Regions from separate parts of the Homo sapiens genome. Here region 2 is linked to region 1. The links come from fine-mapping of genetic effects on gene expression. A gene starts in region 1. The other region holds a variant in brackets. All regions are shown on one strand. Distances are from middle to middle.

Region 1 (15,643 bases):
TGTTTTTGGAAAAGAAGTCATTTGAAAAGGGATTTTTTTAGGCTGGGCACAGTGGCTCACGCCTGTAATCCCAGCATGTTGGGAGGCCAAGGCGGGTGGATCACAAGGTCAGGAGATTAAGACCATCCTGCTTAACCAGGTGAAGCCCTATCTCTACTAAAAATACAAAAAATTAGCCAGGTGTGGTGGCACGTGCCTGTAGTCCCAGCTACTCGGGAGGCTCAGCAGGAGAATCGCTTGAACCTGGGAGGCTGAGGTTGCAGTGAGCTGAGATCGTGCCTCTGCACTTCAGTCTGAGCGACGGAGCGAGACTCCATCTCAAAAAAAAGAAAAAGGATTTTTTGGTTCCACAACACAGGCTTAGTTAAACAGTAGTATAAATTCTTACACATGATCTTGTGGTTCATTTTCAAGAACAGATTCAAAAAGTCAAGTACATTCTATGTGTGTTAGCATTCCAGCAGCAGTCTCCAAGGGTCACACTTGGGAACAAGTTCTCCTGGGGTCCTGTAACCACCCAACGTGTTGACCTTGCGCACCGCTTAGACAGAGCCAATTTATCAGGAAAGGGAAATTGCAATGCAGAAAGAATCATTCACGCAGAGCCAGCTGTGCAGCAGACCTGGAGTTTTGTTATTCAAATCAGTCTCCCTGAGCATTCAGGGATCAGAGTTTTTAAAGATAATTTGGTGGGTAGGGGCTCAGGAAGTGGGGAGTGCTGATTGGTTAGGTTGGAGATAGAATCATAGTGGGGGTCAAAGTGAGGTTTGCTTGCTGTCTTCTGTTCCTGGGTAGGATTGCAGAACTGGTTGAGCCAGATTAATAGTCTGGGTGGTGTCAGCTGGTCCATCAAGTACAGGGTCTGCAAAATATTTCAAGCACCGATCTTCAGTTTTACAATATTGATGTTATCCCCATCAGCAATTTGGGGAGATTCAGACTCTTGCAGCCAGAGGCTGCATGACTCTTAAACCATAATTTCTACTCTTGTAGCTAATTTGTTAGTCCTACGAAGGCAGACTGGTCCCAAGGCAAAAAGGGGTTTTTTTTGGGGAAAGGGCTGCTATCAATTTTGTTTCAGAGTCAAATCATAAACTGAATGCCTTCCCGAGGTTAGTTCAGCCTATGCCCAGGAGTGAGCAAGGACAGCTTAAAAGATAGAAGCAAGATGGGGTCAGTTAGGTCTGATCTCTTTCAAAGTCATAATTTCCTCATTTATAATTTTTCAAAGGCAGTTTCAGTTTCAGCTTGGGTCTCATGTTGGTTGGTACTCATGGCCTGATGTACCTCCAGAGCACATGACCCTCATAGTCCAACAATGAAGAGATATCACCTGTCAGGCTTCAATATCCCCTTCTCTGTATGTCTTTTACTTCCAATCGCAGTGTATGATAAACCATCATTGCAGATTAATTCTTTGAGATTTAAAATTTGTTTACATAGAGTGTTAGAACTAGAATAAAATTTAGTCCAGAGGTTCTCAAACTTGAAAAAAAAATAGTATCACCTGGAAGAATGTTTGAAATGTAGATTCCTGGGCTCCTTTCCAATCCACTGAGAATCAGAATCTGGGGTCTGAAGAGCGATGCAACCCGTATTTTTTAGCAAGCTCTAGTTGATTCTGATGTCACCGATTCAGTGTCTATCTTAGAATATTCAAGAACCTCAATTCCTTCGTTATATAGATGAGGAACCTGAGACCCAGAAGCATTGTTCCAGGACCAAACTGAGGGTCGGGCTTCTATTTCTCATGGCCCAATAATGAGATGCAGATGAACTGGGGAAGAAGAGAGTTTTTATTTCTGTAGCCGGTTACAGGGAGTAGGCCTGGAAATTATCGCCAGACCTATTCAAAATTACAAAGTTTTCCAGAGTTTATAAACCTTCTAAGCTGTATGTCTACTTGTAAGTGTGCATTCATCTAAAGACATAAGTGATTAACTTCTTTTAATCTATAACTACGGTCTGAGTCTTGAAGACCTTTCTCTGGAGCCTCAGTAAATTTACTTAATCTAAATGGATCCAGGTGCTGGCGTGATTACCCTTATCTTGTCTCCTGCTAAATTACGGAGGCTTGAGGAGTTTCTTCAGACCCCCCAACGAACTTGTTTGAGGCCTGGGGAGTTTCTTCAGCCCCACGATAAAACTTGTTTCATCCTAAATGGGTCCTGTTAAGAATTCCTTCTTTATTTTGTCATGCTTTAAGGCCCAGGAAAGGCCTAGATAAAACTCTTGATGGGCTTTTGTTACATACCAGCCTTTGTATAAAGCCACTGGCTTTTCGTATTTAACTTAACCACTCAGTACTGAAAGAGTTGTTATGGAGGCCTGTGTTTGGTGAGACTTGGCTTCTACACTGTCATTTGACTGGGGTATCGTTATCTGGTTACTTAGTGTCAGACCTCAGATTTCTCACTTCCAAATAAGAATGCCCTATCCCTGGGCTTCTCTTTCCAACATTCAAATCCCTATTAAATTAGAATGCCTGTTGGAGAAGTCTAACCTGAATCTTAGTTGGGAGACATCTGAACACAAAGTTCCAAAGGTACAACCCGTGTCTGTTTGTAGTTTCCTTCACTTGCAGAATGGGCTCGGGAGGACCAGCAGCACAATGTCCTCAGGCTATGGAGCAGGCCCCTGAGTGAGCCAGAGCCTTCTTTAGCACGGTGGTGATGGAGGCGGCATCCAGTAGCCACAGGACTAAACCATTCCACTGTGGGTGGACATCAGAACTGCCAATGTGCCAAGGTCCGGGTTTCCTGAACTTCTCTTCCATCTAGGCAATGTCAGGGAAGTCTTAACCATAATGTATGAGCGAGAGCCTCTGAAGTTTCCCAAGGCAGGTCTGCTCATCTATTTAAAAGAAATTAGCAAGCTCTGCTTTAGCTTAACTGAAGAGCATCTAGAGAAAGGATGGGGATTTCCAGTGAAAAGGATGCATTGCACCAATGCTCGGAGGGGTGTGTATGTAGCATACAAAAATGTAACATGCTGTTGTTCTCTATACACCCTTCCAACTCCCACCTAAAGGGGAGGTCCCTTGAATTGTTTTCCTAGAAGTGAGAATGAGTAACAAAAGATTCTTTCACAGTCTCCTGCCATTTCCCTTTCTAACAAATGGTTCATGTTTAGCCCAGTGGTTTGCAACCTTGGGGAAGGAAGAGATATTTGCCTCCAGGGTATGTCTGGCAATGTTTGGAGACAGTTTTGGTTGTCTGACAAGACAACATCTGGGATTGCTACTGGTATCTAACAAGTAGAGGCCAGAAATGCTAGTAAATAATAATCATACAATGCAGCCCCTCCCACATAACAATGAATTATATGGCCTAAAATGTCAATAGTTTCAAGGTTGAGAAATTTTAATTTAGACTAAAGTGACTGCTTAGATTAGCAGTGGTGCCTGAGGACCCCAAAGGCTCAAACTCTTTGATTTGTTAGGCAGTTAATCGACTCAATTAAAGAGTCAATTGACTCAATTAAAGCGTCAATTAACAAACCAAAGGGTGAAATGTTAGTCAATATCTCTGAATCCCTTTCTAATTCTGTCACTGACTTGCCAGTTGAACTGAAACAAACTTTTGTCTCTCCTGTTGACTCAGTTTCTTTGGTTGCTAGAAGTCAATGAGAATAGCTTTCTAGTTTCATTGGTATCTCCTCTCCCAGTATCTGCCTCCCGAAATAGTGCCCCAAGGTTTTCAATGGTCTCCATGTCCATAAATCCAATGAACATTTCTCCTTTCCTGCCTTCCTTGGCCTCACATTAGACACAGCATTAAATACAGCCCCTGCTTTTTTTCCCCTACATTTCTTTTATTTCTTGGCTTCCATGTGTGAAAGGAAAGTATCTTGGGCCCCCAAAATTACTGAAGAAAACTCAAGCTGGAAACTGCTTGGAGCAAATCTGCCTCCCATTCTATTCAAAGTCACCTCTCTGTTCACTGAGATAGACGCATACCTGATTTTCCTCCTTTGGAAAGGCTAATCAGAAACTCAAAAGAATGTAGCCCTTTGCATATCACCTTCTGTGACCTGGAAGCTCTCTCCCCCGCTTCGAGTCTTCCTGCCTTTGCTTCAAGTTGTCCCGCCTTTCCAGACTGAACCAATGTACTTCTTACATATATTGATTGACGTCTTATGTCTCCCTAAAATGTATATAACCAAGCTGTGCCCCAACCACCTTGGGCACATGTCATCAGGACCTCCTGAGGCTGTGTCATGGGCTCGTGTCCTCAACCCTGGCAAAATAAACTTTCTAAATTAACTGAGACCCGTCTCGGATTTTCGGGGTTCACATGTCACAGGCTCCTAGTTTTCCTCTTTTCTAGCTCTAATTCTCATTGTCATAAACAGTGAGAATATTCATTAAATATACATGTAGCAATTATCATCAACAGGCTTTCCAACCTCTACCAGACAGTCCAATCTCAGATTTCCCCCAGGTTTAACAAGAGATTTCTTCTCACTCTACACTTTTTCTCTAGACAGTCTCATCAATGTCAAAGCTTCAATTATAATCTATACACTGCAGACCCACATATTTTTATCTTCTCTGAGTCACTGATTCATGTATTCAACTGTCTTTTTGACATCTAAATCTGATTGGGGCATTCACACTCTCATATGTCCAGCCTGAATGTGTCATCTTCCCCCACCTCACTTGCTCAGCATGCCTACCTACCCACATGCTCAGGGTAAAAACTTGAAAGCTTTTAATTTGTCCTTACCTTCACCCTTTCTTTGTATGCAGTCCACCCCCAAGTACTGTCAAGTCAGTGTCTTAAATGCCTATTTAAATCTTATTCTGCCCCGCATCCCTCTAGATTAAAGTACAATCATCTCTCTCCTGAACTATTGATGTAGCTTCCTAATTGTCTTGATTTATATCAGCTCCGCCCCTTCCAGTCTACTCATCACACTATATCTAGAGTGATGGTTTGAATATGCGAAACTGATTGTGTTGCTCCCCTGCTTCAAATTTTCCAATGTCCTCCATTACTCCAAAGTCATAGATCAAAATTCTGCAGTCGGAAATTGTTTGACACCTGCCCATGTCACCAGACTATCTAGCACTATTTACTTCATCTCCCTGTGTTATAGGCACTTCATCTTCTTTCTGTCCTACAAAAGCATCATGCTCTTTCCTGCCCAGTGCCTTCACTCAGGCTGTTCCTTCTGCCCAGAGTCCTCTTTCTTCCCCTTTCCTTACCCCCACCTCACCCCCATTTACCTGATTATAGAATTTCCTTTCTTCCAAGATACTATAGCTTATAAGACACACCTTTTGTTTACAGCTTTCTAGAGAAAAAAATTATTCACTAAATAGGTATATAGCAATTGGAAATCCATATTGATCTTAAAAATCTTTAATTTGATAAGATGTGAATCTTAGAATTAGATAAATATGCTTGTAAATAGTTAAAAGTTAGTTACTTGCACATGGTTTTGTAACTTTCTATTTTACTCTGTTTTTTTCTTATTGTAATTATAATAATACAATTTATTAGAATTTTTTTTTTTTTTTTGAAATGGCGTCTTGCTCTGTTGCCCAGGCTGGAGTCCAGCCATGTGATCTCAGCTCATTGCAACCCCCACCTCCTGGGCTCAAGCAAGTCTCCTGGCTCAGCCTCCAGAGTAGCTGGGACTACAGGCATGTGCCACTACACACAGCTAATTTTTGTATTTTTAGTAGAGACGGGGTTTCACCATGTTGGCTAGGCTGGTCTTGAACTCCTGACCTTAAGTGATCTGCCTGCCTCAGCACCCCAAAGTGCTGGAATTACAGACATGAGACAGTGTGCCCAACCCAGAATTCAAATTTTTAAAAGGTCTCTCTCATCTATTAGAATGTGAGTTCTGGTACCACTAAATCTCTAGTACATGACACAGTGTCTAGCACAAAGTCGGTGTTAAGATTAACCAACATGTTCAAATCAGAATTGCTCCATTTCCCATTAGGTTATGTTCAAGCCAGGCTGTGTACCCACCCTATGCTAGTTTCTATTGCTATTATAACACATGGGCAGAAATGTTGTGGCTTAAAAGAAGGTACATTTATTCTCTCACAGTTCTGGAGATCAGAGATTCAAAATCAGTTTCACTAGAGTAAAGCCAAGATGTCAGAAGAGCTGTTTCCTTCTTGAGGCTTTAGGAGAGAATCCATCTTTTTGCTTAGTTAAGCTTCTAGTGGCTGCAAAGTTCCTTTGGCTGTATAAAGTAACATCCAAGGGCTTGGGAAATGGGATGTGGACATATTTGTGTGTGGGGGGAGGCATTATTCAGCCTACCACCCACCCCTGTGTTGAAAAACAATATGGAAGACTTAGATCCAAATTGGAAAATGGAGCATAGATCAAGAGACATCACTTAAGAGTCAAGACTATGTTTTAGACCGGGTGTGGCTCCTTCCTAGTGGTGAGATTCTTGGTAAATACCTTCATTTCTTCAAGCCTCCTCCGCAAAATGCTGGACCAAAGCAGGTGATTTCTTCCCTTCTATGATCATGGGCTCCCAATGGTTACATGCTAGAGTATGATTTTATGCTGTCCTCATGGCTTCGCATGGCCCACATGGCTTCAGGAACACAAAAGAAGCCCAGAAAAAGGTTTCAAGATCCCATACCCTGCCACTGTGAATGAGAGACAGTTTCTTGATGCTGATTTTCCTCCAGGCCCCCATCACAGCCTGGTTTCAATTTTGGTAAGAAGAGGAACAGAAAAACAGACCACATATGTAACATAACAAGCTCTGCACCCTTCCTCCTTTATGGTTTCTTTAAATACCAACATAGAGTACCCCCTCCCAAAAAACCTAAAACTGGAATATCCCATCAAGGTATAACTATTTATTACCTACCCACCCCTTAAAAAAAAAGGGAAATAATAAAAGAGGTAAAATTATTGTCCACTTATCTGGCATGAATCATTACATTCTAGATAACTTAGTCATGCACAAAACTAAACAAAAAATATAGTTTTAGACACTAGTAGATTGCACACTCATCTAGATTAAGAATTCCAGAGACGCTCAAAATAGAGGACTTATGTCTTTCAGCCTATCTCAGTGCCTGGCAAGAGTAAGTGGCCAATGAATGTGAGATGAATTGAATCAGGCCCCTATAATTTTTTCATAAAGTATGAATATGTACATGTGATTTGGAGCAGACCAAGTAGATATATTCCTGGGTGTGCCTAGAAGCACTGAGAAGCTGTGTATGTGTTAGATGGAGGTCATTGGTGTGAACATACCAAAAATTTAACAGCAGAGAGCTTTCAGGGTATGCCCCAGCTTTTCTTGTGTTTCAACAGCCCCTTGAAATATTAGAAAAGAGAAATAGAGACATAGATGAAGAGAGAGAGAAAATTGATGGAGAAATAACCAGTTAAAAATAAAGTCAAAACTGAGTGTGAAAGTGAGGCTACTAAAACCAGGATAATAGTCATCCATAGAAATAACCTGTGCTTTGGGAGGAATCCTCAGGGCAGGGGTGATCTCCAGGTAAGAACTGATCAAAGGAGATGTTTGTGTTTGGCTAGGTTTTTACTAAAGCCCTTACTCCCTCTAGTGGGAAGACGGAGCTGTGCAGCATCCGTAGCAAGGTGTGTGCTCTTCAGGGCTAAAAGTCCTTTGGAATCAAGATTGTTTCTTGTTTCTTTTTTTTTCTTTTTTCCTTTTTCTCTTTCTTTTCTTTTCTTTCTTTCTTTCTTTCTTTCTTTCTTTCTTTCTTTCTTTCTTTTTCGTTTTTCTCTTTCTTTCTTTTTCTGTTTCTTATCTCCTCAGCTTGAAGGTTGCATCCTCTTTATCTCCTTAAGTAAAGCTGGGAGTTCTGTAGTACTCCAGGAGTGAGGACAATTATGCTTAAGAAACTTTGGTTTCAGTTTAGTCCCAGACCAAGAGGAAAACATTTCAAAATTTTAAAGTAAATCCTAAAAGTGTAATTTACACCAGAGCGATTGACCTGGCATTTATGTAGACTGAAGCTTGAGAAGTAATTCAAGTGGTTTCCACTCATTCCCTTGGAAGAGTCCTTAGAATGTACTTCCATTGGTCTGAAAAACGCCTGAAAAAGAGTCCTGATGCTAACAGTAATGGAAATAGGAGGGCTGGTGGTTCACGATCAGCCCAGTGGTATCCTCTATTCTATTTGCATCTAGGTAAAGAGACTGTGGCCTGTATGTGATCAAACAATTTGTTGAAGCGCTTTGGGCTTAGGGCATTTAATTTCTGTGAAGTAGGACCATCAGTTGTTTGCTCTGTTTTTGTGTCACCTCTCAGAATACATTAAAGTAGGGGCAACCCTTGAGCCCAGACTTCTGCCATGTGAAGACCCTTTGAAAATCCTGACAAACACAGGTACTGCGTAAGTGGTCAGCTAATTAAAGAGGGGAGGTGGAGCTGTCCTTTGTGTATCCAATAAGTACCCATTATCTCATTTGAGCATGAAAAGAGGCCACTGTTATTACTTTCAAGAAGGAAAGTAAGCAGGATAGCTCATATTTTTAGAACAATTCCTCACCAAATGGAATAATTCCGGTGAAAAGTGGGAGTGAGGAAGAAAGAAAAAAAAAACTTCTAATCATAATGTTTGGGAATAAGAAAGGAAGAAGAAACTCACGTCAAAGCCGACTTTCTCCTGCAGCTGTAAAATAAACTCTTAAGACCCTTCCTGCTGAAACTCTGGAGAGGAAAACTGGAGTGGCGGGTGGGCTTTGCCTGCAGCTCAACTCTCCCTCGCGGCGCGGGCGCGGCTGGGTTCAGCACCTCGGAAAGCGCCCCTCGCGGCGCCCCGGGATTACGCATGCTCCTTGGGGCCCGCCGCCTTGGCCGTGCAAGTGCCACCGTAACTGGTGAGAGCCGCTGGCAACCCACCCGGAGTTGACAACCGCGGAGAGACGCAGACACCCACTGACCTCCAGGAAGCTGAGCGTGGTGGATGGAACTCTACGATCTCTTTCTCTCCAAGGACGGAAACCTCATCCAAGCAGTCCCAGAGGAAACGGATAAAGGTATTTGAAAGGGAGCGAGCGGCCCCAAATCGCACAATTGAGCGGCTGGGGGAGTTATGCGCCAGTGCCCCAGTGACCGCGGGACACGGAGAGGGGAAGTCTGCGTTGTACATAAGGACCTAGGGACTCCGAGCTTGGCCTGAGAACCCTTGGACGCCGAGTGCTTGCCTTACGGGCTGCACTCCTCAACTCTGCTCCAAAGCAGCCGCTGAGCTCAACTCCTGCGTCCAGGGCGTTCGCTGCGCGCCAGGACGCGCTTAGTACCCAGTTCCTGGGCTCTCTCTTCAGTAGCTGCTTTGAAAGCTCCCACGCACGTCCCGCAGGCTAGCCTGGCAACAAAACTGGGGTAAACCGTGTTATCTTAGGTCTTGTCCCCCAGAACATGACCTAGAGGTACCTGCGCATGCAGATGGCCGATGCAGCCACGATAGCCACCATGAATAAGGCAGCAGGCGGGGACAAGCTAGCAGAACTCTTCAGTCTGGTCCCGGACCTTCTGGAGGCGGCCAACACGAGTGGTAACGCGTCGCTGCAGCTTCCGGACTTGTGGTGGGAGCTGGGGCTGGAGTTGCCGGACGGCGCGCCGCCAGGACATCCCCCGGGCAGCGGCGGGGCAGAGAGCGCGGACACAGAGGCCCGGGTGCGGATTCTCATCAGCGTGGTGTACTGGGTGGTGTGCGCCCTGGGGTTGGCGGGCAACCTGCTGGTTCTCTACCTGATGAAGAGCATGCAGGGCTGGCGCAAGTCCTCTATCAACCTCTTCGTCACCAACCTGGCGCTGACGGACTTTCAGTTTGTGCTCACCCTGCCCTTCTGGGCGGTGGAGAACGCTCTTGACTTCAAATGGCCCTTCGGCAAGGCCATGTGTAAGATCGTGTCCATGGTGACGTCCATGAACATGTACGCCAGCGTGTTCTTCCTCACTGCCATGAGTGTGACGCGCTACCATTCGGTGGCCTCGGCTCTGAAGAGCCACCGGACCCGAGGACACGGCCGGGGCGACTGCTGCGGCCGGAGCCTGGGGGACAGCTGCTGCTTCTCGGCCAAGGCGCTGTGTGTGTGGATCTGGGCTTTGGCCGCGCTGGCCTCGCTGCCCAGTGCCATTTTCTCCACCACGGTCAAGGTGATGGGCGAGGAGCTGTGCCTGGTGCGTTTCCCGGACAAGTTGCTGGGCCGCGACAGGCAGTTCTGGCTGGGCCTCTACCACTCGCAGAAGGTGCTGCTGGGCTTCGTGCTGCCGCTGGGCATCATTATCTTGTGCTACCTGCTGCTGGTGCGCTTCATCGCCGACCGCCGCGCGGCGGGGACCAAAGGAGGGGCCGCGGTAGCCGGAGGACGCCCGACCGGAGCCAGCGCCCGGAGACTGTCGAAGGTCACCAAATCAGTGACCATCGTTGTCCTGTCCTTCTTCCTGTGTTGGCTGCCCAACCAGGCGCTCACCACCTGGAGCATCCTCATCAAGTTCAACGCGGTGCCCTTCAGCCAGGAGTATTTCCTGTGCCAGGTATACGCGTTCCCTGTGAGCGTGTGCCTAGCGCACTCCAACAGCTGCCTCAACCCCGTCCTCTACTGCCTCGTGCGCCGCGAGTTCCGCAAGGCGCTCAAGAGCCTGCTGTGGCGCATCGCGTCTCCTTCGATCACCAGCATGCGCCCCTTCACCGCCACTACCAAGCCGGAGCACGAGGATCAGGGGCTGCAGGCCCCGGCGCCGCCCCACGCGGCCGCGGAGCCGGACCTGCTCTACTACCCACCTGGCGTCGTGGTCTACAGCGGGGGGCGCTACGACCTGCTGCCCAGCAGCTCTGCCTACTGACGCAGGCCTCAGGCCCAGGGCGCGCCGTCGGGGCAAGGTGGCCTTCCCCGGGCGGTAAAGAGGTGAAAGGATGAAGGAGGGCTGGGGGGGGCCCCATTTAAGAAGTAGGTGGGAGGAGGATGGGCAGAGCATGGAGGAGGAGCCTGTGGATAGGCCGAGGACCTTCTCTGGAGAGGAGATGCTTCGAAATCGGGTGGAGAGAGGAAATTGGCAAAGGGATAGAGACGAGCCCCACGGGCCAGACAGCCAACCTCCGCTCCGCACCCCACAGCCTCTCCTTACTCTTCCCACGCTGAGTAGTGTGGGGGCGCCCAGAAGCGAAGACAAGCAGCAAAAATGTAGAGAAATTGGCACGGGGAGCGGGGCTTAGCCAAATGATGCACAGACAATTGTGCCCGTTTATTCCAGCGACTTCTGCGGAGAGGGCAGCCGTCGGCACAAACACTCCTTTGCGTCTTGGCAAACGAGACTGCAGCAGCGCCAAGGTCCTACTTGCTGCGGGGCTGCCCCAGGAATCTAGAGCTGGTAGGCAAGAAACGCTTTTGGAGTTAAGAAAAAGAACTGACCATCCTGGTCCGCCCACAGGAGAAACGGCAAAGGAAAGCCACCTCCAATGGAGTCATTATGACAATTATCATTCCGGACTGGGCCAGCGGGAACACCCTGAGCCCGACCTAGCTGCACAGCCCCGGAGCTCAGACGTTAGCAGGGGGATAACACCTGTCACCAGCTTGGGAGAGCCATTCTCTGGGGAGTGTCGTCGCTGCGGGAGGGAGGAGACACAGTGTGATTAGAAGGGCTGGACAGGGAAATTTCTTCAGGCTGCTGCCCCAAAAGGTAAAAGGGGGCTCATATGCTCACTTGGTAGCAGAGTTGGAAGTGGAGCGCTGGCGCGTTGCGCGCAGGAAGCTCGGGCGCTCCAGTTCCTCTGAGAGCAGTCTGCGTGCTGCCGGTGAGCTGGGCCCGGAGGCATCTTGAATAGCTCTACTGGGAGGAGTGGGGGCACTTCTTCAGTTCCTCCCTTCCCACGCTTTGGGAATCAAGCTGTTCCTTTGATTGAGGCCCTGGACCAGCGAGTAGAGGGATGGTTCAGTATTTATTTTATTATTAATTTTTTTCTGGTAGGCTTAGATAGAAGAGGAAGAAATACCGCAGAAATGTGCAAGGGGAATTGGGGCGGGGGGCGGGGGGAAGTGGAATCTTGGAAACCAAATTCCTAGAAGCTGGGTCGGATCTCTCAAACAGAGGTGTGGGGTAGGAAAGAAAATAGAAGGTTCAGGTACCATGTTCTAAAGCGAGCAGAGTACTGGGGAAACTGTTCTGAGGGTATCATCAGAATTTCAGTTGTGGGCTTTTTTATTGCTTATATTATTGACAAGAGAAGGTAGGAAATAGTAATTCCCATCGGACATTACCATCACCAATTTCCATTTATTCTAAAGAGTGCTTTACATATTAAGCATGCATGACAAATTCTTTCCCAGCCTCCAGACAGTTTATGGAGCTGTCTCTGAAGACCGCCTCACATTTCTCATGTTGACTCTGTTTTGATCACAGGAGCTTAAGATGTTAAACCCTCACAAAGTCCTTTCTTGAGGCTCTTCTAAGAACTGGGATCAAACATCAGTCTACCTACCCCTCTGCTGGCTTTCATAGAGGTACTGCTACTCTCTTCGGCAACCTGGTTTGGGGCCAAAAAACCAATGATGCAGGCACCCACCAGGGTGGTTGGTTTAATATAAAAAATAGCCATTCGTAAAAACAGGTCTGTTTAAAGAGCCTCTTGAACGGTAGAATTGTTTAGTGATGTCGTTGAAAGTTTTCTGCAGTATCTGAGATTCAGGGCTCAAAATGTGAGATCTACAACTCCCACCTTCCCTGATCTGCTTTCTGTGATTGCAAAACACAGTGAAATGACTAAACACTCATGCCTTCCCACAAAGGCAGAAGCTGCCAGTCGCGATTCTGAGCAGTCTTGTGAAGTCAGCTCTTTTAGAAAACTGAATGGTGTGTTTGTTTTGAAGTAGTCCATTTTTTTCTTCACCCTTTGGGAAGAACAATTATTGATATAGATATTGAATAGCAATTAGGCTAACAAAGACTGAAATGTAAGCTCCACAAAGGTCCCCAAAATACAAAATACATGAAAAAGTAAACACAGGAGAAAACTAACATTTGCACGGTAGGAGATACATCTATAACACGGATAATAGACTCTTACTGAGAGATTCTTATCAAAGCAAATTTCCATTTCAATTTAACAATAAAATAATGTATGGGTAGCTCAGAATTTTTAGGAAAGGGTGTTGAAGTATGTGCATCTGCTACTATGGGCACTAGAAAAACAGCAAAGAAGGAGCTGGAGGAATGGGAAAAAAATAACCTCTATAAAAAGGGTCACTTTGTCCAAATCCCAAGCACAAGGCTTCTGAGAACATGGCAGGAGGGATCAAAGATCATGACTTTGGTCTACCACAAAGACAAAAGGGTCACCAAAGGAAATGGTCAGATCAATTGTAATCAACAATTACTTTTTGAGTGGCTGTTTTGTGCCATCCCCTGTGCAGGGTGCTGAGGTGATGTACACGAACCAGACACGTTTCTGACCTCCACACGTAAAAGGACAGACAGCGGTGAGCACAAGCAAGATAAGACAGGGAATGATCAGCTGAATGTCAAAGTAAGGCTGAAAGAAAGAAAGACAAAGGAAGGAAAAGTTGATCCTGCTGGGAGGTCAGACTTTCTGGTCAAAATAATATTTGAGACAGGTCTAAATATATGGGCACAGTTTAGGCAGAATGGCAGGGGTTGGTTCGGAGGTAGAGAGGATATTCAACGCTAATAAAATGTGGTGACTAAAAGCTTTGATGTTGGAATGTCGGATGCTTGGTTAGGGAAGCAGGAAACAAAGTAGTAGGGATTCTCTTTCTCTTGCAGGATTTCCCAGGATTTCTGTTGAGAGTATGCGTCCTTGTACTAGTTTTATTTGTCTGGGGAAAGGAAATTTCTTTTGCCAGAAAGAATATGTCATTGGTATACTGAGAACAAATACTTAGATTCCCAAATGTGGTTAAAGACTTTGAAAATTGGATTATATTTATTCATTCAAACCTCAAGGGAGTTGAGTTCAATGAGTATTTGCATATTTGTGTGTGTGTGTGTGTGTGCGCGCGCACAAGTGCCCTGTGGTTGGTTAGGGATGACTACATTTGACTTCTTGGGGGTTCAATAAGATGGCCCTTAGCTGTGGGTCACCTTTCCAGCTGGCCCATCTATTCATTTCCAAATCTTCACACATCAGAACAGTTTTTGGAGAAACGGACAGGAAATAAACACTGAACCCTGGAGAGGATTCCATTTCTAAACCTTGCAGAGGCCAAGTACAGGTAAGGGAGATAAGACAGGTGGCTTGTCGCTGTTTCTTTCCTAATGCCAAGAGTTATGTGCCATGAAGTCCTCTGAACATTTACCCATCCTCATCCCACACAATGGGGTTGGGAGCAGGTGTTTTCCCTCGTGGCCTCTCTAAATGAGTCATTAACTTATTTCTCCAGGATGGATAATGGCAGGGGGATGGGAGGGTGGAGTAGAGAAGAAGGGGTAATTTTGTATATATTCTGTAAAAAGAAAGAGATTATTTCATTTGGGAGTGAATGTACTAATAGAATACAGGAGGACCTGATTGGGAAGCAGAAAATGAGAAGGGAGCAAGGCTTGGAGGGTGATAAGTAAAAGAGCATGCTCAAGCCAGAGAAGACAGCCTAGCTGGGTCTGGAAAGCACCAGTGATCTGGAGAGAATGGGACAGACACACTGCAGGAGCCTGGATAAGGAAGCTGCATGCCCTGCAGGTGACGAGGTTGAGCAGGGGGCAGGAAGAAGTGGCCACTTTAGCATAAACCCCTGCCCTCTATTGTTCCCCCCAACATATACACCAGAAGTGGCCAGACTCACAGGGGCATTTCAGATGCCTTGCTCCACACCCCAGCACTGCCTCAGTCACAGGTATAAGAACCAGGTAGCTGCAGAGAGTGGGTTCTTTAAACACAAAGGAGGTAATGGTAGAATTGAAGCAACAAAGTGGAAGCCCAAGCAGCAGCAGCAGGAGGAAAGCGCGTGTGAGATATCAGGGATGCCACTGCCTTATAAGACACTTGGGGAGGCTGGGAAGGAGAAGGAGGCTGCAGCACAGAATGACAACAAATGGCTCTTTGCTCCTAGGCTGGCCAACTTCAGTAGATACGGTCCTTAGCCCTGGGCAGCCAGGGCCCCTGGTCTGGGTGTCATCATTAGAGGAGACCCTGCTCTTCCCCTGCCCCTCCCCACATGGCAAGGATTGCACAGGACCTTCTGGAATCTGTGCCCCCCTAGTCCTCCCACCTCCTAGATTATGCTTGGGTACGTGAGACCTTGGAATCTCTTGTCCAAATGGCCCTGAGTCTATTTACAAGGAATCCATGGGTTCTTTCTTGAGTCTATCCTCCAGAGGGAATTCCATGCCACTGAGTCTGTCCACCCTTAAGTGGCTAAGGGTGGTCGTTTGCAGGAGCGATAGAGGGTGGAGGCAGGTGGGAGGCTATGGATGTGCTGACGCCAGCATGCACACAAGGACTCTACACTGCCTAGGTAGAGAGAGGAGTGGGGGAAGCAGTGAAGAGGGATGGGCTGTGGATCACATGCCTCCATTCATGTGCCAGACACCAGGCTAAGTGCTGTCCATACAGGAAGCAACGGAACCAAAGTGACTGGGTTCAAAGCCCAGCTCTGTCACTTAAGAATTGTGTGGTTTCAGATAAGTTATATCTTTCTGCCTCCATTTCTTTATC
Region 2 (16,037 bases), 800 kb before region 1:
GCAGTGTGTAGAGGAAAATTTATAGCACTAAATGCCCACAAGAGAAAGCAGGAAAGATCCAAAATTGACACCCTAATGTCACAATTAAAAGAACTAGAAAAGCAAGAGCAAACACATTCAAAAGCTAGCAGACGGCAAGAAATAACTAAAATCAGAGCAGAACTGAAGGAAATAGAGACACAAAAAACCCTTCAAAAAATCAATGAATCCAGGAGCTGGTTTTTTGAAAGGATCAACAAAATTGATAGACCGCTAGCAAGACTAATAAAGAAAAAAAGAGAGAAGAATCAAATAGACACAATAAAAAATGATAAAGGGGATATCACCACTGATCCCACAGAAATACCATAAGAGAATACTACAAACACCTCTACGCAAATAAACTAGAAAATCTAGAAGAAATAGATACATTCCTCGACACATACACTCTCCCAAGACTAAACCAGGAATAAGTTGAATCTCTGAATAGACCAATAACAGGAGCTGAAATTGGGGCAATAATCAATAGTTTACCAACCAAAAAGAGTCCAGGACCAGATGGATTCACAGCCGAATTCTACCAGAGGTACAAGGAGGAACTGGTACCATTCCTTCTGAAACTATTCCAATCAATAGAAAAAGAGGGAATCCTCCCTAACTCATTTTATGAGGCCAGCATCATTCTGATACCAAAGCAGGACAGAGACACAACCAAAAAAGAGAATTTTAGACCAATATCCTTGATGAACATTGATGCAAAAATCCTCAATAAAATACTGGCAAACCGAATCCAGCAGCACATCAAAAAGCTTATCCACCATGACCAAGTGGGCTTCATCCCTGGGATGCAAGGCTGGTTCAATATACGCAAATCAATAAATGTAATCCAGCATATAAACAGAGCCAAAGACAAAAACCACATGATTATCTCAATAGATGCAGAAAAAGCCTTTGACAAAATTCAACAACCCTTCATGCTAAAAACTCTCAATAAATTAGGTATTGATGGGACGTATTTCAAAATAATAAGAGCTATCTATGACAAACCCACAGCCAATATCATACTGAATGGGCAAAAACTGGAAGCATTCCCTTTGAAAACTGGCACAAGACAGGGATGCCCTCTCTCACTGCTCCTATTCAACATAGTGTTGGAAGTTCTGGCCAGGGCAATCAGGCAGGAGAAGGAAATAAAGGGTATTCAATTAGGAAAAGAGGAAGTCAAATTGTCCCTGTTTGCAGACGACATGATTGTTTATCTAGAAAACCCCATTGTCTCAGCCCAAAATCTCCTTAAGCTGATAAGCAACTTCAGCAAAGTCTCAGGATACAAAATCAATGTACAAAAATCACAAGCATTCTTATACACCAACAACAGACAAACAGAGAGCCAAATCATGAGTGAACTCCCATTCACAATTGCTTCAAAGAGAATAAAATACCTAGGAATCCAAGTTACAAGGGATGTGAAGCACCTCTTCAAGGAGAACTACAAACCACTGCTCAAGAAAATAAAAGAGGATACAAACAAATGGAAGAACATTCCATGCTCATGGGTAGGAAGAATCAATATCGTGAAAATGGCCATACTGCCCAAGGTAATTTACAGATTCAATGCCATCCCCATCAAGCTACCAATGACTTTCTTCACAGAATTGGGAAAAACTACTTTAAAGTTCATATGGAACCAAAAAAGAGCCCGCATCGCCAAGTCAATCCTAAGCCAAAAGAACAAAGCTGGAGGCATCACACTACCTGACTTCAAACTATACTACAAGGCTACAGTAACCAAAATAGCATGGTACTGGTACCAAAACAGAGATATAGATCAATGGAACAGAACAGAGCCCTCAGAAATAACGCCGCATACGTACAACTATCAGATCTTTGACAAACCTGAGAAAAACAAGCAATGGGGAAAGGATTCCCTATTTAATAAATGGTGCTGGGAAAACTGGCTAGCCATATGTAGAAAGCTGAAACTGGATCCCTTCCTTACACCTTATACAAAAATCAATTCAAGATGGATTAAAGATTTAAACTTTAGACCTAAAACCATAAAAACCCTAGAAGAAAACCTAGGCATTACCATTCAGGACATAGGCATGGGCAAGGACTTCATATCCAAAACACCAAAAGCAATGGCAACAAAAGCCAAAATTGACAAATGGGATCTAATTAAACTAAAGAGCTTCTGCACAGCAAAAGAAACTACCATCAGAGTGAACAGGCAACCTACAACATGGGAGAAAATTTTCACAACCTACTCATCTGACAAAGGGCTAATATCCAGAATCTACAATGAACTCAAACAAATTTACAAGAAAAAAACAAACAACCCCATCAAAAAGTGGGTGAAGGACATGAACAGACACTTCTCAAAAGAAGACATTTATGCAGCCAAAAAACACATGATTAAATGCTCCGCATCACTGGCCATCAGAGAAATGCAAATCAAAACCACTATGAGATATCATCTCACACCAGTTAGAATGGCAATCATTAAAAAGTCAGGAAACAACAGGTGCTGGAGAGGATGTGGAGAAATAGGAACACTTTTACACTGTTGGTGGGACTGTAAACTAGTTCAACCATTGTGGAAGTCAGTGTGGCGATTCCTCAGAGATCTAGAACTAGAAATACCATTTGACCCAGCCATCCCATTACTGGGTATATACCCAAATGACTATAAATCATGCTGCTATAAAGACACATGCACACGTATGTTTATTGCGGCATTATTCACAATAGCAAAGACTTGGAACCAACCCAAATGTCCAACAATGATAGACTGGATTAAGAAAATGTGGCACATATACACCATGGAATACTATGCAGCCATAAAAAATGATGAGTTCATGTCCTTTGTAGGGACATGGATGAAATTGGAAATCATCATTCTCAGTAAACTATCGCAAGAACAAAAAACCAAACACTGCATATTCTCACTCATAGGTGGGAATTGAACAATGAGATCACATGGACACATGAAGGGGAATATCACACTCTGGGGACTGTGGTGGGGTCGGGGGAGCGGGGAGGGATAGCATTGGGAGATATACCTAAGGCTAGATGATGAGTTAGTGGGTGCAGCGCACCAGCATGGCACATGTATACATATTTAACTAACCTGCACAATGTGCACATGTTCCCTAAAACTTAAAGTATAATAAAAAAAAAAAAGAAAAAAAAATAAGAAAAACTAATCCGTCATTCTGCCAAATAAAGATGCCTCTGGGAAATCCAAAAAAAAAAAAAAAAAAAAAGCAATCACAATGTTGCCACAACTGTTGAGCTAGACATCAAATTATAATATCAGGCAGACAAACAGGAACACATTACTAGCTACCCATAGATTTCTAGGGGTAAAGTGGTAACTTTCCACATTTGTGGAAAAGTGATCTTTACTCAGGAACATAATTTTTCTATGTCTAGGGGAAAGATCATTAATGTTAAGTCTGAGAATCCCATTCAGCAGGCCTTACTGAGCTTCACTCCTCCCCACAAAAGCAGCCACCCTTGATAAGGCACACTAGTGATAACAAAGTTCACACATCTATACAAATTCTTCGGGGGAATCTGGGTCAACATAAATTTTTCTTAAAAATTATAGAGTAAATTTCTAGGAGTAAGTAATTAACAACTCTCCCTATTGCATTCCTCTATTTATCTTCATAATATCAGTGACATTAAAAGCATTAACTTTTGAGTTCTTAATTACACAGGGCTCTTGGTTGTATGCAGAGTTATAGAGTCCGTTCTTGCCCTTTAGGAGTTTAAAATCTAAAAACATTTTTTTAAATGCAAAACATAATCTAAATTGAAAATGCCAACTACATGAATAAACAGTAGGTCATCTATAATTTCTCTGCAGCTGTCCTCACGGAGGACCAGAAATTATACTGCCTCGTAAAAGGCATATAGGATTTAAATAGAGGATACTGAGTTTTTGGTATGGTCAAGAAGGAGGGATTAGGGAGGAGAAGTGTGGGAGGAGAAGATGGGGGTGAACAAAAACACACTGGTGAGAAAGTGGAAAGTTGGGCAATGGTGAGTAGCGCTGTTTGATCAGAGCAGGAGGTTCGTGTAGGTAAGTAGTAAACAGAGACTAAAAGAAGAGTCACAGACAACACTGAATACCAGTTTAAAAGTTTGAACTTTATCCTTTGCTGGTGAGTGTCCCCAAAGGAGACATTTCATCAACAATTGAGGAAAACCACACGTCACACTGAATTTACTAAAGCTGGTGTAAGAGGGATGACCTTGAGCAATCTTTTATATGGTATAAATAGCACTAGCTTTCCCAACAGTCACAAAATCTTGCCGTTTTACACAACTGGATATTGATAGAACTGCCACTTGTGGCAAGGTCTCTTGGGCATGCCTTCTGAGCCCTCAAGTTGGTAATCTCTGAGTAGACATTCCAGACACTTACAGAAAAACCAAAGCAGTCATAAATAGCATCAATTCAATTTGCATAGCACCTTTCCTCCAAAATACTTTAAGTGCTAAAGGAGCCTGGCTCTTTACAACAGGACCATGCCAAAACTCACTAAACAAACTGCTTGCTTAAGAGGGATAAATTCCTTGAACAAATGCATCTGTAAACTCTCTACCTCCCTCATTATGGTTTGCACAGGGCAGTGCCACAGATCCAAACAGTGGCCAGAGGCAGAATATCTCCAACTGATGAATGGAAGCAGAAAGGCTGTCTGTGCAAGTGCAGCTCTCTCTTTTTTTGTTTTAGATGGAGTCTCGCTCTGTCGTCCAGGCTGGAGTGCAGTGGCACGATCTTGGCTCTCTGCAACCTCTGCCTCCCGGATTCAAGTGATTCTCCTGCCTCAGCCTCCCGAATCTTAGCTGGGATTACAGGCATGCACCACCATGCCCGGCTAATTTTGTATTTTTAGTAGAGACAGGGTTTCTCCATGTTGGTCAGGCTGGTCTCGAACTCCTGACCTCAGGTGATCTGCCTGCCTCGGCCTCCTAAAGTGCTGGGATTACAGGCGTGAGCCACCAAGCCTGGCTGCAAGTGCAGCTCTCAAGGTCAGCATAGCACTGCTCTAACCTTGGAATGTGTCCCATTAACTGTTGGCTGGCATCTCTGGCCCAAATAAAACTCCTATTTTTAGAAAAATTTTATTGTAAGTTTTTTAAATTATACTTTAAGTTTTAGGGTACATGTGCACATTGTGCAGGTTAGTTACATATGTATACATGCACCATGCTGGTGCGCTGCACCCACTAACTCGTCATCTAGCATTAGGTATATACATGCATGGATTCATTTATGAACTCTATTCTATTTCATTGGTCAATGTGTCTATTTTTATGCCAGTACCATGCTGTTTTAATTACTATAGCTTTGTAGTATAGTTTGATATCAGGTGGTGTGATACCTCCAGTTTTTTTCCTTTTGCTCATGATTACTTTGGCTATTTGGTTTTTTTATACTTTCATATGCATTTTAGAATTTGATATGGTTTGGCTGTGTCCTCACCCAAATCTCATCTTGAATTCCCATGTTGCAGGAGGTAACTGAATCATGGGGGCAGGTCTTTCCCATGCTGTTCTTGTGATAGTTAATACATGTCATGAGATCTGACGGTTGTAAAAACGGGAGTCTCCCTCCACAAGCTCTCTCTTCTTCTATGCCACCATGTGAGACATGCCTTTCACCTTCCACCATGATTGTGAGGCCTCCCCAGCCATATAGAATTTGTAAGTCCAATAAACCTCTTTCTTTTGTAAATTGCCCAGTCTTGGGTATGTCTTTATCAGCAGCATGAAAACAGACTAATACAGTAAATTGGTACCAGTAGAATGGGATGCTGCTGAAAAGATACCTGAAAATGTGGAAGCGACTTTGGAACTAGGTAACAGGAAGAGGATGGAACAGTTTGGAGGGCTCAGATGAAGAAGGGAAAGTTTGGAACTTTCTAGAGACTTGTTGAATGGCTTTGCCCAAAATGCTAATAGCTATATGGACAATAAAATCCAGGCTGAGGTGGTCTCAGATGGAGATGAGGAACTTGTTGGGAACTGGAGCAAACATTATTCTTGTTATGTTTTAGCAAAGAGACTGGCAGCATTTTGCCCCTGCCGTAGAGATTTGTCAAACTTTGAACTTGAGAGGGATGATTTAGGTTATCTGGTGGAAGGAATTTCTAAGCAGCAAAGCATTCAAGAGGTGACTTGGGTGCTGTTAAGAGCATTCAGTTTTAAAAGTGAAACAGAGCATAAGAGTTAGGAAAATTTGCAGCCTGACAATGCGATAGAAAAGAAAATCCCATTTTCCGAGAAGAAATTCAAGCTAGCTACAGAAATTTGCATAAATAACAAAGAGCTGAATGTTAATCACCAAGATAATGGGGAAAATGTCTCTAGGGCATGTCAGAGACCTTTGCAGCAGCCACTCCCATCACAGGCTCAGAGACTTAGGAAGAAAAAATGGTTTTGTGGGCTGGGCCCAAGGTCCCCATGCTGTGTGCAGACTAGGGACTTGGTACCCCACGTCCCAGCTGCTACAGCTGTGTCTGAAGGGGTCCAATGTAGAGCTTGGGCCATGGCTTCAGAGGGTGCAAGCCTCAAGCCTTGGCAGCTTCCATGTGGTATTGAGCCTGCAAGTGCACAGAAGTAAAGAACTGGGGTTTGGGAACTTCCACCTAGATTTCAGAAGGTATATGGAAACACCTGGATGCCCAGGCAAAAGTTTGCTGAGGGGGTGGGGCCCTCATGGAGAACCTCTGGTAGGGCAGTGTGGAAGGGAAATGTGGGGTTGTATCCCTCACACAGAGTCCCTACTGGGGCACCATCTAATGGAGCTGTGAGAAGAGGGCCACCATCCTCCACACCCCAGAATGGTGGATCCACCAACAGCTTGCACTGTGTGCCTAGAAAAGCCTCAGACACTCAGTGCCAGCCTGTGAAAGCAGCTGGGAGGGAGGCTGTACCCTGAAAAGCCATAGGGACAGAGCTGCCCAAGACCATGGGAACCCACCTCTTACATCAGCATGACCTGCATGTAATACATGAAGTCAAAGGAGATCATTTGGAGCTTAATTTGACTGCCCTGATGAATTCTAGACTTGCATGGGGCCTGTAGCCCCTTTGTTTTGGCCCATTTATCCCATTTGTAATGGGTGTATTTACTCAATGCCTGTACTCACACTGCATCTAGAAAGTAACTAAAATGCTTTTGATTTTACAGGCTCATAGTCAGAAGGAACTTGATGTGTCTCAGATGAGACTTTGAACTGTGGACTCCTGCGTTAATGCTGAAATGAGTTAAGACTTTGGGGGACTGTTGGGAAGGCATGATTAATTTTGAAATGTGAGGACATAAGATTTGGGAGGGGCCAGGGGAAGAATGATATGGTTTGGCTGTGTCCCCACTCAAATCTCATCTTGAATTCCCACATATTGTGGGAGGGACCTCTTGGGAGGTAACTGAATCATACAGGCAGGTCTTTCCTGTGCTGTTCTCATGACAGCGAATACGTCTCAGGAGATCTGATGGTTTTAAAAACAGGAGTCTCCCTGCACAAGCCCTTTTCTCTTGTATGCTGCCATGTGTTACGTGCCTTTCACCTTCTGCCACGAACGTGAGGCTTCCCCAGCCACGTGGAACTGTAAGTCAAATAAACCTCTTTCTTTTGTAAATCGCCCAGTCTGAGATATGTCTTTATCAGCAGCATGAAAACAGACCAATACATAATTGTTTTCTATTTGTAGGAAAAATAACATTGGAATTTTGATAAAGATTGCATTAAATCTATAGGTTGCTTTGGCTGGACATTTTAACAATAATTCTTCTAATCCATGAGTACAGGGATATCTTTCCATTTGTGTTTTCTCAAATTTCTTTTTCTTTCTTTCTTTCTTTCTTTCTTTCTTTCTTTC[C/CTTCT]TTCTTTCTTTCTTTCTTTCTTTCTTTCTTGTTTCTTTTCTTTCTCTCTTTCTTTCTTTCTCTCTTTCTTTCTTTCTTTCATTTATTTTTTTGAGATGGAGTCTCACACTGTCACTCAGGCTGGAGTGCAGTGGTGTGATCTTGGCTCACTGCAGCCTCTACCCTCTAGGTTTGAGCAATTACCCTGCCTCAGCCTCCCAAGTAGCTGGTGTTACAGGTGCCTGCCACCATACCCAGCTAATTTTTGTATTTTTAGTAGAGATGGGGTTTCGCCATGTTGGCGAGGCTGGTCTCTAACTCCTGGCCTCAAGTGATCCACCCGCCTTGGCCTCCCAAAGTGCTGGGATTACAGGTGTGAGCCACCATGCCTGGCCTCTTCAATTTCTTTAATCAATGTTTTAAAGGGTTCGGCATACAGGTCTTTCACTTCCTTGGTTAAACTTATTTCTAAGTAACATTTTTTATGGCTATTGTAAATGAGATTGTTCTCTTGATTTCTTTTTTAAGTAGTTCATTGTTAGTGTATAGAAATATTACTAATTTTTGTGTGTTGATTTTGTATCCTGAAACTTTACTGTATTTGTGTATTAGTCCTAATAGTTTTGTGGTGGAATCTTCAGGTTTTCTATAGATAAGATCATGTTGTCAGCAAAAAGTAACAATTTCACTTCCTTTCCTATTTGAATACATTTTATTTCTTTCTTTTGCCTAATTGCTTAGGCAAAGACTTCCAACACTATGTTAAATACAAGTGCCACAAGTGGGCATCCCTATCTTTTTCCAGATCTTAGAAAAAAGGCTTTTAATTTTTCACTGTTGAGTATGTTAGCTGTGGGCTTATTATATACAGCCTTTATTGTGTTGAGGTACATTCCTTCTATACCTAATTTGATGAGATTTTTTATCATCAAAGGATGTTAAACTTTGTCAGTTTCTTTTTCTGTATCAAATGAGATGATTTTTGGTGGCTTTCTTTTTGTCCTTCATTCTGTTAATGTGGTGTGTCACATTTATTGATTTGTGTATGTTGAACCATTTTTGTATACTGGGGAAAATCACACTTGATCATGGCAAATGATTCTTTTAATGTATTGTTGAATTTGATTTGCTAGTATTTTGTTGAAGATTTTTGCATCAAAATTTATAGAAAATATTAAATTTATGTAATTTCTTTTCTTGTAATGTTCTTTTCTGCTTTAGTATCAGGGTAATGCTAGCTTCATTAAAAAGTCTGGAAGTATTCCATCCTCTCCAATTTTTTCTAAGTGTTTGAGAAGGATTGGTGCTAATTCTTCTTTAATCATTTGGTAGAATTCAGCAGTGAAGCCATAGGTCCTGGTCTTTTCTTTGATGGAAGACTTTGTATTACTGATTCAATCTTCTTACTTATTATTGGTAGGTTCAGATTTTCTATTTCTTTATCATTCATGGTAGGGCATACATGTCTATGAATTTAACCATTTTTTCTAGGTTAGATAATCTGTGTATAATTGTTCATAATCATCATTTGTGACCCTTTGTATTTCTCTGGTATAAGTTGCAATATCTCCTCTTTCATTTATGATTGTATTTATTTGAGTCTTTTTCTTTTTTCTTGGTCTAGATGTAGGTTTTTCAATTTCACTTATCTTTCCCAAAAATCAACTCTTAGTTTCATCAATCTTTTGTATTGTTTTTCTAGTCTCCCACCTAAGTACTAACCTTTCTTAGCTTCTGAGATCAGACAAGATTTTTTCCTAATCTCTATTTCATTTATTTCTGCTCCAATCTTTATTACTTCCTTCCTTTTTAATGTCGGGATTAGTTTGTTCTTTTTCTAATGTTACTTCTTTGAGAAGTAACATTAAGTTGTTTATTTGATATCTTTTTTGATGTAGGCATGTATTGTTATAAACTTACCTCTTAAAACTGCTTTTTCTGTATCTTGTAAGTTTTGGTATGTTGTATTTCCATTTTGGTTTGTCTCAAGATATTTTTAAATTTCTCTTTTAATTCAATTTGTTGTCCATTCAGGAGCATGTTGTTTAATTTTTATAAATTTGCGAATTTTCTAAAATTCTTCCTGTTATTGATTTCTAGTTTCATATCATTGTGGCTGGAAAAGATACTTGATATGATTTTAGTCTTCTTAATTTGCTAAGACTTGTTTTATGGCCTTTCATTATCTATCCTAGAGAATGTCCAATGTGTACTTCAGAAGAATGTGTATTCTGTTGCTGTTGGATGGAATGTTCTGTATAAGTCTGGTAGGTCCAATTAGTCTAAGGTGCTATTCAAGTCCAATGTTTTCTTATTAATTTTCTGTCTGGATGATCTACCCATTGTTGAAAGTGGAACATTAATATCCCCTACTATTATTGTACTGAATAATATCTATCTCTCCTTTCATATCCTTTAATATTTATTTTATATATTTAGGTGCTCCAATATTGGGTGCAAATATATTTACAATTGTTACATCCTCTTGAGGAATTGATCCATTTGTCATTATATACTGTCCTTGTCTCTTTTTACAGTTTTTGACTTAAAGTCTATTTTTTTCTGATATAAGTATAGCTACCGCTTTCTTTTGGTTTCCATTTAGGTGGAATAATATTTTTCCATGCCTTCACTTTCAGTGTATATGTGTCCTTAAAAATGTGGTGAGTCCCTTTGAGGCAGCATATAGTTGGGTCATGTTGTTGTTGCTGTTTTCCATTAAGTTACTTCAAGCATTTTTATGGGAGAATTTAATGCATTACATTCAAGGACATTATTGATAGGTAAGGACATGTTACTATCATTTTGTGAATTGTTTTCTGGTTGTTTTATAGTTATTTTACTTCCTTCTTCATCTCTTGCTGTCTTCCTTTATGGTTTGATGGTTTTATGTAGTGGTATGCTTTGAATTCTTTTTTTTCCTTGTGATTCTACTAAAGATTTTTGCTTTATGTTTACCATGATACTTACATAGAACATATTATACTTATAACAGACTATTTCAAGCTAATATCAACTTTGATGTCATAATCTACATTTTTACTCCCCTTCCTCACATTTTACATCTTTGATGTCACAATGGACATCATTTTGTAAAGTGTATCCCTTGACAATTTATTTTGGCTACACCTTTTATTAATAGTTTTGTATTTTAACCTTTGTGCCAGAGATAAAATTGCTTTAAACACCATTTTTATGTTCCCAGAGTATTCTCAACATGGCTCTGTATTACTAACATTCAGTTTTGTGCTTTCATTTGTTTTATGTCCTTAATTAGCAGCTTTTTGTTTTGGATTAAATAACTCCCTTTAGCAATTCTTGTAAAGCACATCTACTGGTAATGAACTCCTTTAGTTTTTATTCATCTGTTAAAGTTTTTATTTCTCCCTCATGTCTGAAAGAGAGCTTCACTATGTAAAGTATTCTTAGTCATCAGTGTTTCTCCTTTAGCACTTTGAATATAATATCACACTCTCTCCGGTCTTGCAGGGTTTTTGCTGAGAAATCTGCTGATAGTCATATTGAGACTCCTTTATATGTGATATTGAGACTCCTTTATATATCTTATCTCTTGCTGATCTCAGGATTCTTTGCCTTTGATTTTTGATATTTTGATTATTACTGGTAGAATTTGTAGACTTCTGCACTTCCTATACCTGAATGTTGGCATCTATCCCCAAATTGAGGAATTTTTCAGCCATTATTTCCAGAAATATGCTTTCTGGCCCTTTCTCTCTTTTTTCTTCTCTGATACTTCTATTATGCGAAGGTTTGGTGTCTTGATAGTGTTCAATAATTCCCACAGGCTTTCTTCATTCTTTTGTTTTTCTGCTCCTTTGACTGAATAATTTCAGATGCTTTTTCTTCAAGCTCATTGATTCTTTTTCTGCTTGGTCAAGTCTGCTGATGAAGCTTTCTAGTGCATTTTTTCAGTTTAGTCACTGTATTCTTCATCTCTAGGATTTCTAGTTTTGTAAAAAAATTGTTTCTATTTGTTGAACTAGCTTTGTTTGTGTATTGTTTTACAAATTTCACTTAATTTTCTATCCATATATTCTTGTAGTTCACTGAATTTCTTTAAGAGGATTATTCTGAATTCATTTTCAGTCATTTTATAGACCTGTATTTCTTAGAAGTGTCATGATTTCTTGATTCCTCACAATCCTTGTGGTGTTGTCTGTGCATTTAAAGAGAGAGCCTCCTCTTCCAACTTTTACAGGTGTTCTTTGGCAGGGATAGGTCTTCATTATTTATTGTAGTCTGAAATTCTAAAATGGCAAGCTGGTGACAACCTTAGGCAGGAAGAGTTTGTGTGGGTTCTCTAGGTGGCTGAGTTATTGTCTTTGCTCTGATGTCAGATGGGGCTACTGGCTGGACTCAGCTGTCCAGTGAGATCACTTGCTGGGCTCTGCTATCAGGCAGAGCTTCTGGCTTGGTACTGTGATGGCGTCTGGTCAGGCTGGTCACAGGATGTATTTCCTGGCTGGGCAGTTCCATTATTCGGAATCTGCAACTGGGCAGGTCTACAGTGGCCCTGACCTCTGAGGTTAGGCAGAGTTGCTACTCCAGAAGGGTGGAACCTGAGGCTATGCTCCTTAGAAATGCATAATTGGGGATTGCCTCTATGTCCAGGCAGAGCCATAGAGTGAACTTTTGACTGAGTCAAACTGTTGTTTAATTTCCAAGGTTGAGCAGGTCTAGTCCCTATGCTTCTCTGTAATGTGAAGAAGTTAATATCTCCTTGCCCGAATGGGGTCACCAGGGGCTTTTTGGCTAAACTGAGCCATTCTGCACTTGCAGGTCAAGCACTTCTAGCCCCTAAGCTTCTCTGAATGGGCTAAGGCAAGCATCTCCTTGCCCAGGTGAAGTGGTTGGGGTGTCTCAAGAGGCTGATTGTGGAGACTAGTTGTCTAGAGACTCAAGCCAAAGTTAAACTTTTCACTGTGCTTCTGAAAGCAACCAGTTCAGCTTTGCAGGTGTGCTATGCACTTGCTGGGCTCTCCAATTGGGTGCCACAATTGGTAGGAACACGGAGGTACCACCAAGATCCACACACTGGTCACTGTGAGCTCCACCTTCATTCTTTGTTTCTACTTGACTTTGAACAGTTTAGCTATGTCATTACCCTCAGTGTATCCCATAAGATGACGAAGGAAACATCTCAGAATGCTAGGGACACTGGATGACTGCCTCCATTTCTTTTTTCCCACTATAAAAACTGTGGGTCCAGGGGAATCTTCTCTGTCTGGCACTGTGCCAACTTCAAGGGGGTTGAGGGGGTAGTGACACAGCTGAAGTGAGATTTTTCTTTTCTTTTCTTTTCTTTTTTTGAGACAGAGTGTTGCTCTGTCGCCCAGGCTGGAGTGCAGTGGTGTGATCTCAGCTCACTGCAAGCTCCGCCTCCTGGGTTCACACCATTCTCCTGCCTCAGCTCCCGAGTAGCTGGGACTACAGGTGTCTGCCACCATGCCTGGCTAAATTTTTCTATTTTTTAGTAGAGACGGGGTTTCACCATGTTAGCCAGGATGGTCTCGATCTCCTGACCTCATGATCTGCCCACCTCGGCCTCCCAAAGTGCTGGGATTACAGGCATGAGCCACCGTGCCCGGCCAAAGTGAGACTTTTCTAATTCAGTTATCATTTAATTCCACGGACCACATGGGTGTCTCAGCCTTGTTTCCAAGTATTGAAATTTTCAGAAAGATGTTATGGTCTGTAGATAGTTGCTCATTGAACTTTCTGTGTCGAGGAGGGTGAGCACAGCCTGAGACTTCCTATTCTGATACCTTGCTTACCAAACTCTTATCTTTGACTCCTTGTTATTCACATACTCCTGACAGGCTAATTTTCAGAAAATATATTTTTTTCAAAATCAGCACTGTACAATACCCTTCAGTACTTCTACAATGACTGAAAACTCAAGCTTAGACATCAATCAGATGTTCCAAGGCTGAGGTCTTGCCTGACTACTTATTGACCTACTATTTTCTTTCTTACATTTTACATCCCCTCTGCTCTACCTAGGATTGTCTTCTCTCTATTCCTAAATATGTTACACTCATTCTCAGCCAAATATGCTCATTAATGCTAGATCTTTTGCCTAAAATATCCCTCTGTATAAACTGTTTAACCTCCATGAGGTATTTCATATCTATATCAATTATTTACTGATTTCTGACTTCCCACAGCACTTATAATTCACGAATGTTATTCTGGGGCTCAAGCACTGCCTTTTTGTTAAATTAGATTATAAGAGTCCAGAAGAAAGAGGCAATTTCTTTAAATTCTTTCATGTTCCCCACAATGCCTATCAATATATGAAATAAAATTAGGTGTTAATTAAAGACCTAGTAAATTAAATTACCATGAAAATATCCTTTGGTCATTGGTCAATAAAATCAATAGTCAGAAAAGCATGTTGTCATGGAAATAGGACAGGCTCTGGAGTCATAAAGACATGGGTTCAAATCCCAGCTCTACAACTTACTACCTGGGGCACTGAAATTGTCTTCCCTTTGCCATAGTTTCCATGGATGTAAAATGAGAATATTTCACAAGATTATTATGAGAATTTAATGAAACAGCATATACAACCTTTATATGCTATTTTAGTTTGGGCTTCTATCACAAAGTACCATAAATGTGGTGGCTTGCAAAATAAATTTATTTCTCACACTTCTTAAGAATGACAAGTCCAAAATAAAGACGCCAGCAGGGTCAGGTTCTGGTGAGGGCTCTCTTCTGGGTTGCACACAGCTAACAACTCATTGATCCCTCACATGGTGGAAAGAAGGCAAGAGAGCTCTCTGAGGTCCCTTTTTATAATAGGGTGCTAATGCCATTCATGAGGAGTCTACCTTCATGACCTAATTACCTCCCAAAGGCACCGCATCCTAATGTCATAACACTGGGGTTAGGATTTTGGTGGTTGCATATGAATTTTGGGCATATGCAGGCCTTTAGTCCATTGCATATACCATAGTAAATAATAAGTATTCAATAAATTTTAGTTTTTTACTCAGTACTCATACCTAATTATTATAAAGTAGAGGCAGAAGAGTCATCTTAGGCTAGCTGGCTGCTATGGCAGTGACTTGAAGGGTAGAAATTTGATTAAGAAGTCAATATTAGCCTCAGTTCTTCATAGCCAGTACAATAAGGATTTTTTACAGACCAGCACATAAAATGCCAATTTACAATAGAAGTAAGAATGATTTTTCAGATGAGAACATTCAAATAAGGTGGTTAGTGTTATCAGCAGTGAATCTGTATGGGTCTGCAGCAACCTCAGTTCTTGCCTCCTCAAAAGAAAGAATTCCATCCAGGGGCATAAGGCAGAATGAGAGACTGAGGCAAGTTTTAGAGTGGGAGTGAAAGTTTATTAAAAAGTTTAGAACAGGAACCAAAGGAAGTAAAGTACACTTGGAAAAGGGCCAAGCGGATGACTTGATCTCTCAAGTGTGTGATCTGACTTTCGATATGGGGTCTTGGCATGCTCCCAGGGTTGCATTACTTCTCCCCTGATTCTTCCCTTAGGGTGGGCTGTCCACATGTGCAGTGGCCTGCTAGCACTTCGGAGGGGCCTCATGCATAGTGTGTCTACCGAAGTTGTACACATGCTCACTTGTGGTATTTTTCCCTTACCAGTATGATTCCTAAAGAAAGGTCATACACCAGTTAAACGCTACCATTTTGCCTTTTAGTGAGCATGGTTGAGCCCACTTGCCCAACTCCTGAGATCTTACTGGGAAGCTGCTGATTACCAGTTTCAGGTATTTCTACCTATTGGGAGACTTCCTTTCCCTGGTGCTGGCTGCAACCAATTATTATTTTAGAGAGACATCTTATAGCTGCCTAACCACCACATGATGGTCACCTGACATTCCTGGTGGGTGGGATGTGTCTCCTGCCCTGCTCATGTCTGCCTGACTACCTACTGTAACAGTTAGTACATTATTTCCCTACGGAAAAACTGTATGAAAAGCCAAATTATGATCAGTTTGCTGAACATGAAATCACAACAAGGAAATTTTATTTAGTGATTTTAATGTTATGTGACAATAGGCTATCATACAACTCCACTAGGGAAGTAATACATGCCAAAGTGAAGGGAAATTTGAAGTCAATGATCATGGCACCCTATGTACTGTACAGTTTTGAAGATACACAGCCAAACT

Alleles and levels. Alleles are on the strand shown, and positions count from the first base shown. SD is a standard deviation of normalised expression in the study named.
As copies of CTTCT replace C in region 2, the expression in monocytes after interferon gamma of the gene that starts at base 9,054 in region 1 goes down (large effect, 0.81 SD a copy in Fairfax 2014).

What was found.
Region 2: its variant is fine-mapped to the expression of RXFP3 in monocytes after interferon gamma (Fairfax 2014, PIP 0.95).

What each region holds. Positions count from the first base shown.
Region 1 is chr5:33,927,333-33,942,975 of GRCh38, forward strand. RXFP3 (relaxin family peptide receptor 3) reads left to right here and starts at 9,054. Exons shown (of 1, transcript NM_016568.3): 1 at 9,054-11,586. The coding sequence starts at 9,409. The coding sequence ends at 10,818. RefSeq lists an enhancer at 3,706-4,211.
Region 2 is chr5:33,125,234-33,141,270 of GRCh38, forward strand. No RefSeq gene overlaps it. Among named protein-coding and RNA genes, the nearest start is that of LINC02160, 96 kb to the right of the region's middle. The variant C/CTTCT (reference allele first, on the strand shown) is at 7,882.